Homo sapiens: one gene and its partner. The protein of the gene in region 1 purifies or fractionates together with the protein of each later gene. This does not show direct contact. Each region holds a gene or a part of one and is shown on either strand. Other genes may lie near its edges.

Region 1 (7,653 bases):
GACATCAGGCAGAAGCTGTGTGAGCAAAAGCCTGCTTCCTTACCTGTGAAATGAGGCCTCTATTAGTCAGCCAGGCTGCCACAACAACATATCACAGACTGGGTGGCTTTAAAACAGACTTTTTTCTCACAGTTCTGGAGGCTGAAGTCTGGGATCAAGGTGTTGGCAGGTTTGGTTTCTCCTGAGGCCTCTCTCCTTGGCTTGCAGAGGGCTGCCTTCTGGCTGTGTGCTCACATGACCTTTACTCTGTGCACATGCATCCCTGCTTTCTCTCTGTGTCTTAAAAGGACACCAGTCATATTGGATTAGGGCCCCACCCCTATTACCTCATTAAACCTTAATTATCTCCTCACAGGCCCTGTTTCCAAATACAGTTACATTGTAGGATTAGGCTTCAACCTGTGAATTTGGCAGGACACAATTATGTCCATAGCAAGGGTGATAGCATTTCTGCAATGAGCTTATCAGATAAGGTAACAGATCTCCATACAGCTTGGTCTCCTTTCTTCTCACTTTCATTCTTGAATTAAAATCTGGATTAACACTATTTCAATTGCAAATGACAGGAACCCAATTCAAAGTAACCTAAGCAGAAACTGAATTTATTGAATATGTGACTGACAAGGCTAAGAGGTATACTACTTCAAGCATGGCTGGACCCAGGTGTTTGACATCCATCTGGGATGTGTCTTCCTTTCTGGGTTCCATTTTCCTCCCCTTTCATTATGACAGATGGCCACTAGCAGGTCCAGCTTACATCCTGCCCCAAGGCAACCCAAGAGGCAAAACAGATACTCCTTCCCAATAGTTCCAGCAAAAGCTTGGGAGCAAATCTCAATGCACCAACTTGGATCACATTCCCATCCCCACCCCACTGTGATCAGAGGGGTGGCATACACTGGCTGGCTAGGCCTGGATCATGTCTCCATCTCCATCCCTCAAGCAGGGGCATTCAGAAGTGGAAAGGTGGTCCTTCAGAGGGAAAGCACAGTGCATGAGTCACAGGTCAGCCAGGTGGTGTCTGGGAGACGCTGGAGCCCAGACACCAGGGAGACTAAAACAGCAGCTGTCCTGACTTCCTCTGCATCACGAAACAAGAGTGCACACCTGCCCTTGGCCAAGAAATGGCAGGTGCTCATTTACATCTCATTTTATGATCATTTGCATATCATCTGCAGTACTGGCTGCACCAAGCCCTGAGGTGCAGACCTAAGAGTCTTGAACCTGCATCCTCTTGGCTGCAAGGGGATCATAGAGGCACAACATAAGAAAAGCCCACCAGTTATCGGAGGCAGGTCCAGTGCAGACCCCTGTGGATGTTCCAGGAGCCAGAGAAGCTCGGAAAGGAAGAGCTCTGTAAAGCCTGGCAGCCTGCCTGGAAAAGACAAAATTTGAGTTAAATATTGTGGGGGATAGGGATTGGTTAGGCAGAAAGTCAGAGAAAGGGTTGGGGTGGCAGGTAGGGACAGCAGGAGCTAAGGAGTGATGGTGGAAGTGTGTTAAGAGTGTTGGTTGATCAGGGAGGTGGGAGAGAGATTACAGCAGTGGGGAGGGCATCATATCAGAGAGCCCTGAATGCCAGAGCAAGGAGTGTGGGCTATGCCCATGGACAAAAAGGGAGAAGGGTTTTGAGCAAGAAAGCGACTTGACAAGTTCAGTATTTGGTGGAGATGACTATAAGCAAGTGCAGGATGGAGCAAAAGGGGAGGCTGAGCCTTTCAGGTGGGAGACTCAGCCTCTCAGAAGGGTGAGCAGCAGGGAGGGAGGTAAGGCCTCAAGGCTGCACCAGGAGGCAGAACCCAGCCTTTCCAGCTCTGAGATTTCCCCAGGGGCCCAGCAGCTTCCTCCACTGTGAGATCTCCCAAGAGCAGAGCCGGGGAACTGAAAGAGGACTCCACAAGCCTACCACTGCTCCAAAGCCACCCCACCTCAACAGATTGAAGGGAAGTAGCAGGGGCAGGGCTGGGCCCACAGTGAGGTGTTGCAGGGATGCCCAAGGTCATCCTGGCCCAAAATCCCTGTATAACATCCCTCATGGCCCACCGACTTGATTTGGGTACCCCACAGATGTGGCTCATCTCTGGTTATTGTTATTAGAACTGACTCTTGCATATGTGAAACCAAAGCCTGCCTCTGTTCCACTTAGTGTCCTGGTTCTACCCTTTGGGCCACAAAAAACTACTAGTTCATCCTCCTTCAAGGCCAGGTGTTTCTGCAATAGTGCCCAAATCCCTGGGGGACTTTCCTTTTCTGATGGCTGGACAGTTGTAGTTGCCTCAGAGATTTCCCCATGTAACCCTGTCTCCTTGAGCTTCCCACTCTGCTCATCTCATTTTACCCTCCCCTTCCTAGACACTGCATCTTTGTTAATATAGCCCATGATCACACCCATCCTTTGTAGCGGTGTTCGCTCTGCCTGCAGGTGGGTAGGGAGAGAAAGGAAAATCCAATATAAAATGCATATCTTGCCCCCACTGTGGCCCACAGCCACACTGCCTTTTCCAGACCCTGTCTCAAGCCCCCACTCCAACAAAATGGCCGCAGATGGTCAGGGGTTCTTCCATAAGGATCTGAGCCACAGACAGCGGTAAAGCCGTTACTGTTCCAACAACAGAGATCTAGCAGGCTTTCCCTCCCAGCTGAGAACCCGGGTCCATGCCACAGGGCAGCCTCAGGCTGATGCCTGAACAGAAACACCACCATGCCGGGACCAAGAGCCTGGGTCCCCCAGTGCCCGAGGCAGCCCTAACACACTGTTCAGGCCTAAATACCACCCATGACCTAACGTGGAAGAAGTCAGGTGACAGGTGTGAGAAAGTGTAAAGCAAGTGGCCTCGGCTCAAACCTTCTTTAAAGTAGGGCCGGAATGGCTGAGAAGATGGAGCCGCCCAGGCTGCCCCACAGCAGTAGCAGGTGTTAAACTGTGCTCCTTTCCTGCCGAGGCCTTTTTTTTTTTTTTTTTTTTTTTTTTTTTTAATGAGAGGGAGTCTGAGCTTCCATCAGATTGTCAAAGGATTCAAGACTAAGATTAAGAGCATCCCCCAAAGAGAAGCAGCTGCAGGTTGAGAAGTCCTCGGACCGCCTAATTTCCGCCAGCCCTGGGATTGGTGGCGCCGCCTCTCAGCGCCTCCTTTCCCGGGGAACCTGCAAACCTGGCGCGGCCGAGAGGCGGATTACTGACCCAAATACGGATGGGGATATTGGGGGAGGGGAGCCAGGGCGACAGGGCGGCGGCCCCAGACTGGGAGGGCGGGTCACAGATCCCTCCCAGCCCCCCACTTTCGTAGAGCGTGGGCAGGAGGAACCTCTGGGTTCCGCGGATCAGAAAAACTCCAAAGGCCGGGTTGTGAGTCCCGGGAGGGGAGGTGGAGGGCGGGGGCGGGGAGGGGCGCGGGAGGGGCGGGGGCTTGCTCCGGCCCCGCCCCCTGCGCTCCGGTGCAGGTCGGGCTCCCCCTGGCGGTCCCCGGCCCCGTTCCTCTCCTCGTGCGCCCCCCTCCCGCCGTCCTAGACCCCTGCCTAGCCCAGGTCGGTCTCCGCGGACCCACGGACGGACAGACAGACGGGAGGACGGCCAGCCGCGAGCGCCCGGGCGGCGGGAGGGGGCGGGGAGGCGACGGCCGTGGCGTGAGGAGCAGGAGCAGGTGCAGCGGCGGCGGCGGGCGGGGCCGGGACCCGGCGCGGAGCGGGAGCCGCGGCGCGGGCGGGCGGCAGGGACCGGGAGGCCGCGACTCGGAGTCAGCCCCGCCGGGTCGCGCGCAGGTCCGGGGAGCCGCGGTTGAGCCGGGTGGGGTGGTGACTCCAGAGAACGCAGGATCCCAAGGAGACAGAGAGGACGAGAGCTGGAGGGGGATCCGGAAAGCGGCGGGGGCGCTCCGGGAGGGGTGGAGTAGGACATAGGGGGCGCACCTGGAGGAGAGACGGGGCGGGGGTGGCCAGGACCTGAGCTGGAGCCTGGGAGCCCGAAGGCCAGACAGGTGAGGCGGGAGACCCGGAGGTGGGGGTGAGGTCCGGTTAGTGGGAGAGATCCGGAGGTGTTAAGTTCTGAGCTGGGCTGGGAAGGCAGGCTGGGCGGGGAGAAGGGCTCTTAGCGGGAGGCCCAGGGGTGGTCAGCTGGTGGGGGAAGCTGGGGGAGGACGCAGGGCCAGGTGGAGAGCCGGCAGGGTTGGGGGCTCCCTAGGCGCCAGGCAGGTGGGCTCAAGGGTGAGGCTGTTTTTTTTGTTTTGTTTTTTGTTTTTGAGACGGAGTCTCGCTCTGTCGCCCAGGCTGGAGTGCAGTGGCGTGATCTTGGCTCACTGCAACCTCCGCCTCTCGGGTTCAAGCGATTCTCCTGCCTCAGCTTCCTGAGTAGCTGGGATTACAGGTGCGCACCACCATGCCCGGCTAACTTTTGTATTTTTAGTAGAGATGGGGTTTCACCATGTTGGTCAGGCTGGTCTCGAACTCCTGACCTAGTGATCTGCCCTCCTCAGCCTCCCAACGTACTGGGATTACAGGCGTGAGCCACCGCGCCCGGCCTGAGGCTGGTATTAAGAAGTGAAGTGGGACCCAGGTGGAGGTAAGGAAGAGTCTGGTGGGGAGTTATCTCAGAAGTGAGGCCAGCACAGGCTGAGTGCAGCCCCAGGGTGAGAAGGTGCCCACCGAGAGGACTCTGCAGTGAGGCCCTAGGCCACGTCCGAGGGGTGCCTCCGATGGGGGAAGCCCCTCCCTGGGGGTCACCGGAGCCATGCTGTCCCGCAAGGGCATCATCCCCGAGGAATACGTGCTGACACGCCTGGCAGAGGACCCTGCCAAGCCCAGGTACCGTGCCCGCCAGCGGAGGGCCCGCTTTGTGTCCAAGAAAGGCAACTGCAACGTGGCCCACAAGAACATCCGGGAGCAGGGCCGCTTCCTGCAGGACGTGTTCACCACGCTGGTGGACCTCAAGTGGCCACACACATTGCTCATCTTCACCATGTCCTTCCTGTGCAGCTGGCTGCTCTTCGCCATGGCCTGGTGGCTCATCGCCTTCGCCCACGGTGACCTGGCCCCCAGCGAGGGCACTGCTGAGCCCTGTGTCACCAGCATCCACTCCTTCTCGTCTGCCTTCCTTTTCTCCATTGAGGTCCAAGTGACTATTGGCTTTGGGGGGCGCATGGTGACTGAGGAGTGCCCACTGGCCATCCTGATCCTCATCGTGCAGAACATCGTGGGGCTCATGATCAACGCCATCATGCTTGGCTGCATCTTCATGAAGACTGCCCAAGCCCACCGCAGGGCTGAGACCCTCATCTTCAGCAAGCATGCGGTGATCGCCCTGCGCCACGGCCGCCTCTGCTTCATGCTACGTGTGGGTGACCTCCGCAAGAGCATGATCATCAGCGCCACCATCCACATGCAGGTGGTACGCAAGACCACCAGCCCCGAGGGCGAGGTGGTGCCCCTCCACCAGGTGGACATCCCCATGGAGAACGGCGTGGGTGGCAACAGCATCTTCCTGGTGGCCCCGCTGATCATCTACCATGTCATTGATGCCAACAGCCCACTCTACGACCTGGCACCCAGCGACCTGCACCACCACCAGGACCTCGAGATCATCGTCATCCTGGAAGGCGTGGTGGAAACCACGGGCATCACCACCCAGGCCCGCACCTCCTACCTGGCCGATGAGATCCTGTGGGGCCAGCGCTTTGTGCCCATTGTAGCTGAGGAGGACGGACGTTACTCTGTGGACTACTCCAAGTTTGGCAACACCGTCAAAGTGCCCACACCACTCTGCACGGCCCGCCAGCTTGATGAGGACCACAGCCTACTGGAAGCTCTGACCCTCGCCTCAGCCCGCGGGCCCCTGCGCAAGCGCAGCGTGCCCATGGCCAAGGCCAAGCCCAAGTTCAGCATCTCTCCAGATTCCCTGTCCTGAGCCATGGTCTCTCGGGCCCCCCACACGCGTGTGTACACACGGACCATGTGGTATGTAGCCCGGCCAGGGCCTGGTGTGAGGCTGGGCCAGCCTCAGCTCAGCCTCCCCCTGCTGCTCATCCAGGGTGTTACAAGGCACTTGTCACTATGCTATTTCTGGCCTCAGCAGGAACCTGTACTGGGTTATTTTTGTCCCTGCTCCTCCCAACCCAATTCAGGACTGGCTCACCCCTCTCCCCCGCCCAAGGCTGCAGAGGCTGTGGGAGGTACTGGGCCCTAGAGCTGTGCGTCCAGCCAGTCCTGGGTCCCCACGATTGACCAGCCACACTCTGGGCCGGTGGCTGGGGAAGAACAATCCCCGAGGGCTGCTGCTTTGCGTCTGTGGCTCCAAGAAGTGCCTGTGGTCAGGCCCCAGCTCTACTTGGTCCCTGAAAAAGCACCTGGCTAAGGGCTGGGCCTGGCCAGCAGGGAGGGCAGTTGATGAGAGAGGGTGTTCCCGCTGGAGGGTTGGTGCTGTGGAGCCTACACCGGCAGGGACAGCCTGGGGCTGACAGGGCTCCCCTCCGAGGGCCAGTTTCAGGTCTGGAAGGGGAGGAAGCAGGGGAAGGTGACCTGAGGAGGCTCGGCTTTGTAGAGCCCCGCTCAGGCACAGGGAGGAGGAGATGCCAGGGCTCCTGCCTTTTGCCACATCGGCCTCGTGCAGTGAGGGCTCTGTGGGCTGGGGCTGCTGCCCCTGCCTACCTCCTGCCTGTCCCCAGAGGCTGAGGAGAGGGGGTACTGTGCCCACCACACATGATTAGGCCTCAGACCCAACTCTGGTCCTGGCTCCACAACAGTGGCTGCCACTCACTTTGTCCAGAAGGTGGCTTGGGGGTGGATATCTTTGGGTTGCTGGAAAAGGTGTGGGAAGGTTCAGGATGGTGGGAGGGACTGAGGTCCCTGAGGTGAAGAGGCCCTTGGTCCTGACGGGTTTGACCCGTGCCTGGACCCTTGGAGCAGTGTTGTGTGAACTTGCCTAGAACTCTGCCTTCTCCGTTGTCAATAAAGCCTCCCCCTCATGACCTAAACTCTGGGCTTTTCTTGCTGGGGAGGCAGCAAGCATGCTGGTGGGAAGGGAGGCAGGGACTGGCAGCTGCCACCCCCTTCAAGAGGCGCCATAGACCCTAGCGGGGAGGGCAGGGGAGGGACGGAAGGCTGGCACCTCTTCCACCAGTTCAGGGGGACTTTCCCCTCTCCTGTCTCAGGTGGCCCAGCCCTGTCAGCCTGTCTGGCCAACTCAGCCTTTGGGCACTCACCAGGCTTTGCAGCCCTGGGCTCTGTCTCTACTCCCAGGGACCTGCTGGAAGGCTGGAGTGCCCAGGGAGAGGTATAGAGGTGTCATAGGCATTAGTGTAGTAATTGGAGCACTAACTCTCGAGCCAACTGCCTGGGTTCGAATCCTGGCTCTAGCTGTATGACTTTTGTCAAGTAACTTAGCCTCTCTGTGTCTCAGTTGCCTCTTCTATAACATGGATGCTAATAGTACCTACCTCATAGAATTGTTTTGGAAGTAAATGAAAAATATGTAAAATGCTGAAGTGCCTGGTCTACAGTAAGTGCTCAATAAATGTTAACTATTGTGATTGCTGCTGAATCAGCTACATGCTGAGGAAACGGCCAAACAAGTGTTAAAGAGAGACGGTGCTTTTATTTTGCCCTTGGTCATGTTTCTTTGCCAGGTCTTTCTTTCCACACGGTGTCCCCTCCTAGCTGAGACCA
Region 2 (8,444 bases), on another chromosome or scaffold:
TAATGAGGCAACTGGGTTACTTTTGTTTTTTGTTTGTTCTTTTTTTTCTTTGAGGCAATTGTTAATTCCAAGACAGACAAAAAGTTTAACACAAAAATAAATCACAGTAAAATACCTGACTTAGTGGTGAATACTTACATAGCTCTAATGCTTTAATCTTTGAGTATGTAATAAAAAATTGTTTAATAACTGGAAGATTGGAGCAATAGGAGGAAGAATGATATGAAAGGAAAGAACTAAATCCTCATCTTCCATGGGAATAAATCAATAAACAATATATACAATTATTTTTTTCTGTCCAGTGAATGCAATACAGTGTTTTGGGTTTTTTTAGACGATCTTATTCTGTTACCCAGGCTGGAGTGGAGTGGTGCCATCGTAGCTCACTACAGCCTCGAACGCCTGGGCTCAAGTAATCCTCCCACCTTGGCCTCCCAAAGTGTTGGGATTACAGGCATGAGCCACAGCACTCAGCCTACAACTGTTAAATGTAGAAACCAGAGTGTAAACATGTTTCTCAGAAGCAAGGGTACAAAGAGCTAAAGAACAGCTATGAGGCTGGGTGTGGTGGTGAGCGCCTATAGTTTGTGCTACTCTGGAGGCTGAGTCAGTAGGATTGCTTGAGCCAAGTTAGAGGCTGTAGTGTGCCACAACAGCCACTGTGAATAGCCACAGCACTCCAGTCTGGGCAACATAGTGAGATCGTGTCTCAAAAAAAAAAAAGAAACAGCTATGAGTTGAAAGAGACTGTGAGGCTGTTTATAAAGAACAGGACTCAAGGGTCTGGAAGGACAGAACAGGGAAGTGCGTCGTTTTTATATAAACTATTTAACTTTTAAGACTATTATATCTGAAACTTTGAAAAATAATTTTTAAAATTTGGATAGCAGCCAGGTGCAGTGGCTCATGCCTATAATTACAGCATTTTGAGAGACCAAGTTGGGAGGATTGCTTGTACTCAGGAATTCAAGACCAGCCTGGGCAACATATGCTACAAAAATTTTAAAAACTAGCAGGGCATGGTGATATACACCTGTAGTCCCAGCTACTCAGGAGGCTGAGGCAGGAGGCTCACTTGAACCTGGGAGGTTGAGATTTCAGTGAGCCATGATTGCGCAACTGTGCTCCAGCCTGGTTGACAGAGTGAGACCCTGTCTTAAATAAATAAATTAATTTAATTAAATAAAATTTGGATGGTACTATTTAACTTAAAAACAGCAATCTTACCTCAGAGTTTACCTAAAGATACATATACGCAAAATAAGAATAAAATATCAGTTTGTCTTCTGGTATTCTCCCTAGATGCCACTCCCCACCTCCCTTAAAAAATAACTATGTACCTTTTCATGAACTTAAATAACTACCTATATTTTCACAGCTGTTTATCTAGGCTTAATTGTTGACAACAGCATGAAAAGAAAAACTGGTTCTGTTTGTTACAAAAAAAATATTAAATGATGCCATGTGAGCATTTGAAACGCATACCAATAAAAACTACCACAGCAAGTACAGGTTTATCCAAGTAAAGGTTTTGAAAAATGGTGAAGGGCCATTATTTGAGAAGTGTATGCCATGATTTTTGGCTCTCCTATGGCTCACAGGCCTATAAATGATTCATTCATTTAATTTATTCATATAACACAGCTTTATACATTTCCTTTTTACATTTGAGGTACTATGCTAAATTCTAAATTTCCTGAAATCTGTATTCCTTTTTTTTTTTTTTTTTGAGATGGAGTTACACTCTTGCTGCCCAGGCTAAAGTGCAATAGCGCAATCTCGGCTCACTGCAACCTCTGCCTCCCAGGTTCAAGCGATTCTCCTGCCTCAGGCTACCAAGTAGCTGGGATTGTGGGCGTGTGCCACCACACCCAGCTAATTTTGTATTTTTAGTAGGGACAGGGTTTCTCCATGTTGGTCAGGCTGGTCTTGAACTCCCGACTGCAGGTGATCTGCCTGCCTCAGCTTCCCAAAGTGCTGAGGTGACAGGCCGTGAGCCACTGCGCCCGGCCTTGAAATCTGTATTATTCTTATTTATATTTCATGGCCTAAAATACCGTAAAATGCTTAAACCAGCAGCATATATTTTAATCTATTAACATCTCCAATTCTTTTTTAGGCAGAAAATTCAAATTTAAGAACAGGATTTATTGTTTATGGATTGACATGGAGATCAAAAGCACACACAACTCCTAAATTCAACATTCTGAAAAAGCTCTCCATTATCTTTTCTAATTTTCCTGTTGTCCAAGAGTAGGATGTGGGTGGAGGATTACCTAGGTGCCGAGGCAAGAGACTGAAGGCACAAACTGTTTCAGTATAATAAAGAAAATAGTTAGAATAAGAATAGTCATAATACAAATTAGATATAGAGATGATCATGGACAATTATCAATCATTATTATAAACATGATTAATCATTAGCTTTTAATATTACTCTTTGTTGCATTACTAATATAACCTAGGAATAACCAGCGGGTATAGGGTCAGGTGCTGAAGGGACATTGTGAGAAGTGACCTAGAAGACAAGAGGTGAGCCTTCGGTCACGCCCGCGTAAGGGCCGCTTGAGGGCTCCTTGGTCAAGCGGTAACGCCAGTGTCTGGGAAGGCACCCGTTACTTAGCAGACCGTGAAAGGGAGTCTCCTTTCCTTGGAGGAGTCAGGGAACACTGCTCCACCAGCTTCTTGTGGAAGGCTGGATATTATCCAGGCCTGCCTGCAGTCCTGGGGCCTAAATCCCTCCCTGTGGTGCTGTGCTTCAATGGTCACGTTCCTTGTCCACTTTCATGCTCCTCCCATACTCCTGGTTCCTCTTTGAAGCTCGTAGTAGATAGCGGTAGAAGAAACAGTGAAAGTCTTAAAGTCTTTGATCTTTCTTGTAAGTGCAGAGAAGAAAATGCTGACGTATGCTGCCTTCTCTCTCTGCTTCAGCTACCTAAAAGAGAAGGCCCCCGCCATCCTGTAATCACGTGACTTGCTTCATCTTGTCAATCACTTAAAAGATTCACCCTCCTTACCCTGCCCCCTTGTCTTGTATGCAATAAATATCAGCGAGCCCAGCCGTTCGGGGCCACTACCGGTCTCCGCATCTTTACGGTAGCGGTCCGCCGGGCCTAGCTGTTTTCTCTTTATCTCTCTGTCTTGTGTCTTTATTTATTACAATCTCTCGTCTCTGAACACGGGGAGAACACCCGCTAAGCCCCGTAAGGCTGGACCCTACAGTTGGACATATACCATAGTATCATGTCAATGCGGATCACAAGGTCAGAAGTTAGAGACCAGCCTGGCCAAGGTAGTGAAACCTCGTCTTTACTAAAAATACAAAAAAAATTAGCTGGACCTGGTGGCGTGCGCCTGTAGTCCCAGCTACTTGGGAGGCTGAGGCAGGAGAATCACTTGAACCCGGGAGGTGGAGGTTGCAATGAGCTGAGATGGCGCCACTGTACTATAGCCTGGGTGACAAAGCGAGACTGCGTCTCAAGTGGGAAAAAAAAAAAAAAAAAAAAAAAAAGGGGCACAGTCTTCTGCATTCTCAGGTAAACAAGAATATAAGTATCCAACATTCATGTATTATATGTAATACATATTATGTGTGGCCGGGCATGGTGGCTCACGCCTGTAATCCTAGCACTTTGGGGGCCGAGGTGGGCAGATCACGAGGTCAGGAGATCAAGACCATCCTGGCTAACACGGTGAAACCCCGTCTCTACTAAAAATACAAAAAGTTAGCTGGGCGTGGTGGCGGGCGCCTGTAGTCCCAGCTACTCAGGAGGCTGAGGCAGGAGAATGGCGTGAACCCGGGAGGCGGAGCTTGCAGTGAGCCGAGATCGCGCCACTGCACGCCAGCCTGGGCGACAGAGCAAGACTCCGTCTCAAAAACAACAACAACAACAAATTAGCCAGGCATGGTGGCGGGCGCCTATAGTCCCAGCTACTCGGGAGGCTGAGGCAGGAGAATCGCTTGAACCCGGGAGGCGGAGGTTGCAGTGAGCCAAGATCGTGCCACTGCACTCCAGCCTGGGCGACAGAGAGAGACTCCGTTTCAAAAAAAAAAAAAAACAAAAGCAAAAACAAAAACAAAAAAACATATAAGTATGTATTAAAAAATAGCAATAAGAAAAAAAAAGACAGTAAGCTCCATGAAGATATAAGCTCCGTGATCCACTATGGCATCTCCAGTGACAGACAGCATCCAGCAACTTACTTGGTACTAAAATGTATTAAAGGAATGAATGAAATACTACTTTGCAATCTTGTCTGCCTTCTCTAACCAACAGAGGTGCAAAAATATCACATTCTAATTATGTATCAGGTATTTATATGTCTGCGAAGGAAGACCTGTCTCGTTAATTTTTTATCCCCAACAGCCTAGAAAATGTTGAAAGAAAAAAGATGGGGGAAAAAGCCCTTTTCTGTAACAAGTTAGAATAGGACCCACATACATTTTGTTACTAACAAAACGTCCAGCTTGTCTTTCTTCTTTGAAAACTGCATGGCCTTAAGAGGAGTCCATTCTAATTAGGAAAAAAGTCACCTTTTCAGAAGCAGGCGCTTCCCACTCCATGCAAAGTGAAGCCAAGTTAGCAAAACCGCAAAGACTTGGCTAATTCAAATACAAGCTAATTTATTATTATTGGCGCAAATTAGCCACTTTCTTTTGCTACGCATGTCAATGTCCACAATCATACCGACCCTTTCCTGTAGGGCGAATGTCTCACCAGTAGCTGGTGAGAAGCACAGCTCTTCTCAGCCAAAACCGACAGAGACTGGAATTTGTGCAGTGCAGTAATCCAAAGCCGTCGAGTAGATATGCCTGCTTTAAAATCTGCATCTCGTAAGAAATGCCTTAATTTTCCATATTAGGAGCTGAGAAACCAAGTCCCCTGAGCCCTTCAGGGACAAGTTCTTTTCCAAATACTACAACCACCTCCAACCACCCAACAATGCCTCAGGCCGAGGGTGGGCCACACGCGACCCAGCGCTAAAGGGTCACAGCCAAGCTGTCCGCCTCCTGCCTTCCCTTTAAAGAAGCCGCACACAAGGGAGCTGCCCGGGAGTTCAACTTCCGGCCACATAGTGAGAGGATGTTTTCCTACTGGAGCTGAGCCGCGGGGGCGCGCCCCCCGGCCGCGCCCTCCTAGCCACGCCCTCCACGCCCGGCCTTCCGAGAGCGAGCTCGGTCGGACGCACGGAAAGGGCTGGGCCACGTGGGCGGCTGCTGAGTGGTTCGCCTTCGCCTCTCAGCGCGCAGTCAGGCGGAGGCAAGCTCAGAGCGCACGGACAGAGCGGTAGCGCGCGCCCGCGCGCGTTCTTAGTACTCTCCCCGGTGACGTGCCTGACCGAGGCCGCGCCAGGGCGCTGTTGCTGCCAATACAGCTGTCATGGCGTCCAAGGCGCTGGCTGCGGAGAAGTGGCCGCGGTCTCCATAGAGCTGGGGGCGGGCGGCCCGGTATGGAGAGCAGCCCCGAGAGCCTGCAGCCGCTAGAACACGGGGTGGCGGCCGGGCCAGCGTCAGGGACAGGTTCTTCGCAGGAAGGGCTACAGGAGACCAGGCTCGCCGCTGGTGATGGTCCTGGGGTATGGGCGGCGGAGACCAGCGGCGGGAATGGGCTGGGGGCGGCGGCCGCCAGGAGGAGCCTCCCGGACTCGGCTTCTCCCGCGGGCTCTCCTGAGGTTCCCGGACCCTGCAGCTCCTCCGCGGGTTTGGACTTGAAGGACAGTGGTTTGGAGAGTCCTGCTGCCGCCGAGGCGCCTCTGAGAGGGCAGTACAAGGTGACCGCCTCCCCGGAGACAGCCGTGGCCGGAGTGGGTCATGAGTTGGGTACCGCCGGAGACGCGGGAGCCCGCCCGGATCTCGCCGGCACCTGCCAAGCAGAACTGACCGCCGCCGGCTCCGAAGAGCCCAGCAGCGCCGGCGGCCTCAGCAGCAGTTGCAGCGACCCGAGCCCTCCTGGGGAATCTCCGAGCCTGGACTCTCTGGAGTCGTTCTCTAACCTGCATTCTTTTCCCAGTAGCTGCGAGTTCAATAGTGAGGAGGGAGCGGAGAACAGGGTCCCTGAGGAGGAGGAGGGCGCGGCGGTGTTGCCCGGGGCTGTTCCTCTGTGCAAGGAGGAGGAGGGGGAGGAGACCGCTCAGGTGCTGGCGGCCTCCAAGGAACGCTTCCCGGGACAATCTGTGTATCACATCAAGTGGATCCAGTGGAAGGAAGAGAACACACCCATCATCACCCAGAATGAGAACGGACCCTGCCCCTTGCTGGCCATCCTCAATGTTTTGCTCCTGGCCTGGAAGGTACATTCTGCAGCTTTCTACTTCCTACAGCTTTTGGGGTGGAGGAAAACGGGGTGAGGGAGCTGCTGCATGTCAGGTGATGGCTTCCTTTCTTTCCTCATTCATCAGTCCCCTTCTTACATGAAATTCATTCCAAGACTTCCATGTTGAAGGAATATTCCTTTATACATATATCGAAAAGAATTGCCCCTAACCTCAGTCTTCTCTTGTAGTGTTTAAGAGTTCAACATTCAATTGTGGTTGATACACTTAGAAACAAGAAGGACTTAGAGCATCTTAAATCTTATGATTATTTTAAACTATAATTTCCTACATTTTCTTACTGACCTTATCACATATGCAAAAAAGTGAAGAATTGGAGAAAGTAATCTTCAGAAGTTACCATCAATCCGTGATATCATGGACTAAGTTTTCATGGTTATATTTAGTTTGATTTCCAACTAATGCCCCATTTGTGTGTAGATACTTAAGAGAATGGTGATGGGGAAGATGTGGCTCTTTAGACAAATTCCATTTAAGGAAAAGCATTGGTCTGAGACCCAATTACCGTAACTTCTTGGTTTTCAAAGATTGTTTTCATTTTATGCATGATTTTTACTTGCCTCATTTCTTTGGCTCTCCTTAAATGGTTTGGCATTATTACCAGTAACCATGCATCCGAATGTGTTAAGGGAGCTAAAACTCTAAAGAACTAAAATAAGAAAAGGTATGTCTAAGGTGAAGGAGCAAAAAAGGGAAAGACCCTTAAAAATAGGTATGTTGAGGACTCAGAGCGAGTTACCTGTCAAATGAAGTGTCTCATTTAAGCTTGCAGTGTTAGGGTGCTGAGAAGATGCATCTCACAGCACCTATTTTATTTTCAAATTGATAATTATATCTGTAGATGCAATGTTTCCTAGGAAAAAAAAACAAAACAAACTGGGTGTGGTGGTGTGCGCCTGTAATCCCAGCTACTCCGTAAGCTCAGCTACTCTGGAGGCTGACACAAGACAATCGCTTGAGCCCAGAAGTTTGAGACCAGCCTGGGCAATACAGTGAGACCCTATATTAAAAGAAAAAGAAAAATAACCTGGATTCTTCTAAACACTTAGGTAGAAAATCAAGTAAAGGGAATAGTGTTTATCAAACATGCCTTTATCTTCCTGTCGCTAGCAAGGACTGATAGAAAAGAAATAAAATTAGAAACCTTGCCATTGTCTGGTGCATAATGGCACTGAGATGTTTTAAGTGAAGACAGTACCTGCCCTTAAAAGGCTGTCAAGCTGTTTGAGGTGGCATCATTAACTTACTGGAAACTGTTTAAGAACAAGAAATAGTAAGTTATATGAGACAAGTGGTAGGTAAACTGTGGTAAATCTGTGGAAATGCATTTGATATTCAAAAAGGGGACATTTTCCTTTGGTATGGCGTAGTCCTAGAAAACTTCATGGGATTTATGGGTCTTGAACCAATCTTTTTTTTTTTCGTTTGTTTGTTTGTTTTAAAGACAAATTAGAGCAATTTAACAGATCTTTTAAGGAAGAGAATTTAGAATAACAGGGAAATGGAATTCCCAGGGGAGAGAAGAGTATAAACCAAAGGAATGAAAATAGAATGGATATTGTGTGTTTATATGTTTATTACATGACAGAAGTGGTAAGCTAATGTTGGAGAATAATGAAAAATAAGGTTGAAAAGGTGAACAAGAGCCATTTGATAAGGGCCCTCAACTAGGGAGTTAGTTAGACTTGCTCTAACGGGCCAGAGTCCCTAATCTTTTTTGTAGGAAGGAATAACTATTATTTTCCTTTAGTCTTTTTTCTTATGTAGTACTGCAGAAATTCAGAGGAAAGGGCAAGTACTGTGGTGTGGAGTATTTGGGGATAGATGCATATTAAACTGACTCATTCAATTCAGACAGATTCAAGTGAATGATCAAGTGTTTGGGTTCCCACTGTGCGTGAGGTACTAGAAATGCAAAGATGAGGCCGGGCGCGGTGGCTCACGCCTGTATTCCCAGCATTTCGGGAGGCCGAGGCGGGTGGATCACCTGAGGTCAGGAGTTCGAGACCACCCTGGCCAACATGGTGAAACCCCGTCTCTACTAAACATACAAAAAATTAGACGGGCATGGTGGTGGGCACCTGTAATCCCAGCTACTTGGGAGGTTGAGG

What was found.
Region 2: the proteins of KCNJ11 (region 1) and MINDY2 purify together in Homo sapiens (affinity purification with mass spectrometry; 3 studies listed by BioGRID and IntAct, with this or other methods). This does not show direct contact.

What each region holds. Positions count from the first base shown.
Region 1 is NC_000011.10:17,385,162-17,392,814, reverse strand, and holds KCNJ11 (ATP-sensitive inward rectifier potassium channel 11), read left to right. Parts: upstream 1-4,155; 5' UTR 4,156-4,723; coding exon 4,724-5,896; 3' UTR 5,897-7,567; downstream 7,568-7,653. UniProt on the Homo sapiens protein: Inward rectifier potassium channel that forms the pore of ATP-sensitive potassium channels (KATP), regulating potassium permeability as a function of cytoplasmic ATP and ADP concentrations in many different cells.
Region 2 is NC_000015.10:58,765,945-58,774,388, forward strand, and holds the start of MINDY2 (ubiquitin carboxyl-terminal hydrolase MINDY-2), read left to right. Parts: upstream 1-5,357; 5' UTR 5,358-5,451; coding exon 5,452-6,291; intron 6,292-8,444. UniProt on the Homo sapiens protein: Hydrolase that can remove 'Lys-48'-linked conjugated ubiquitin from proteins. Binds to polyubiquitin chains of different linkage types, including 'Lys-6', 'Lys-11', 'Lys-29', 'Lys-33', 'Lys-48' and 'Lys-63'.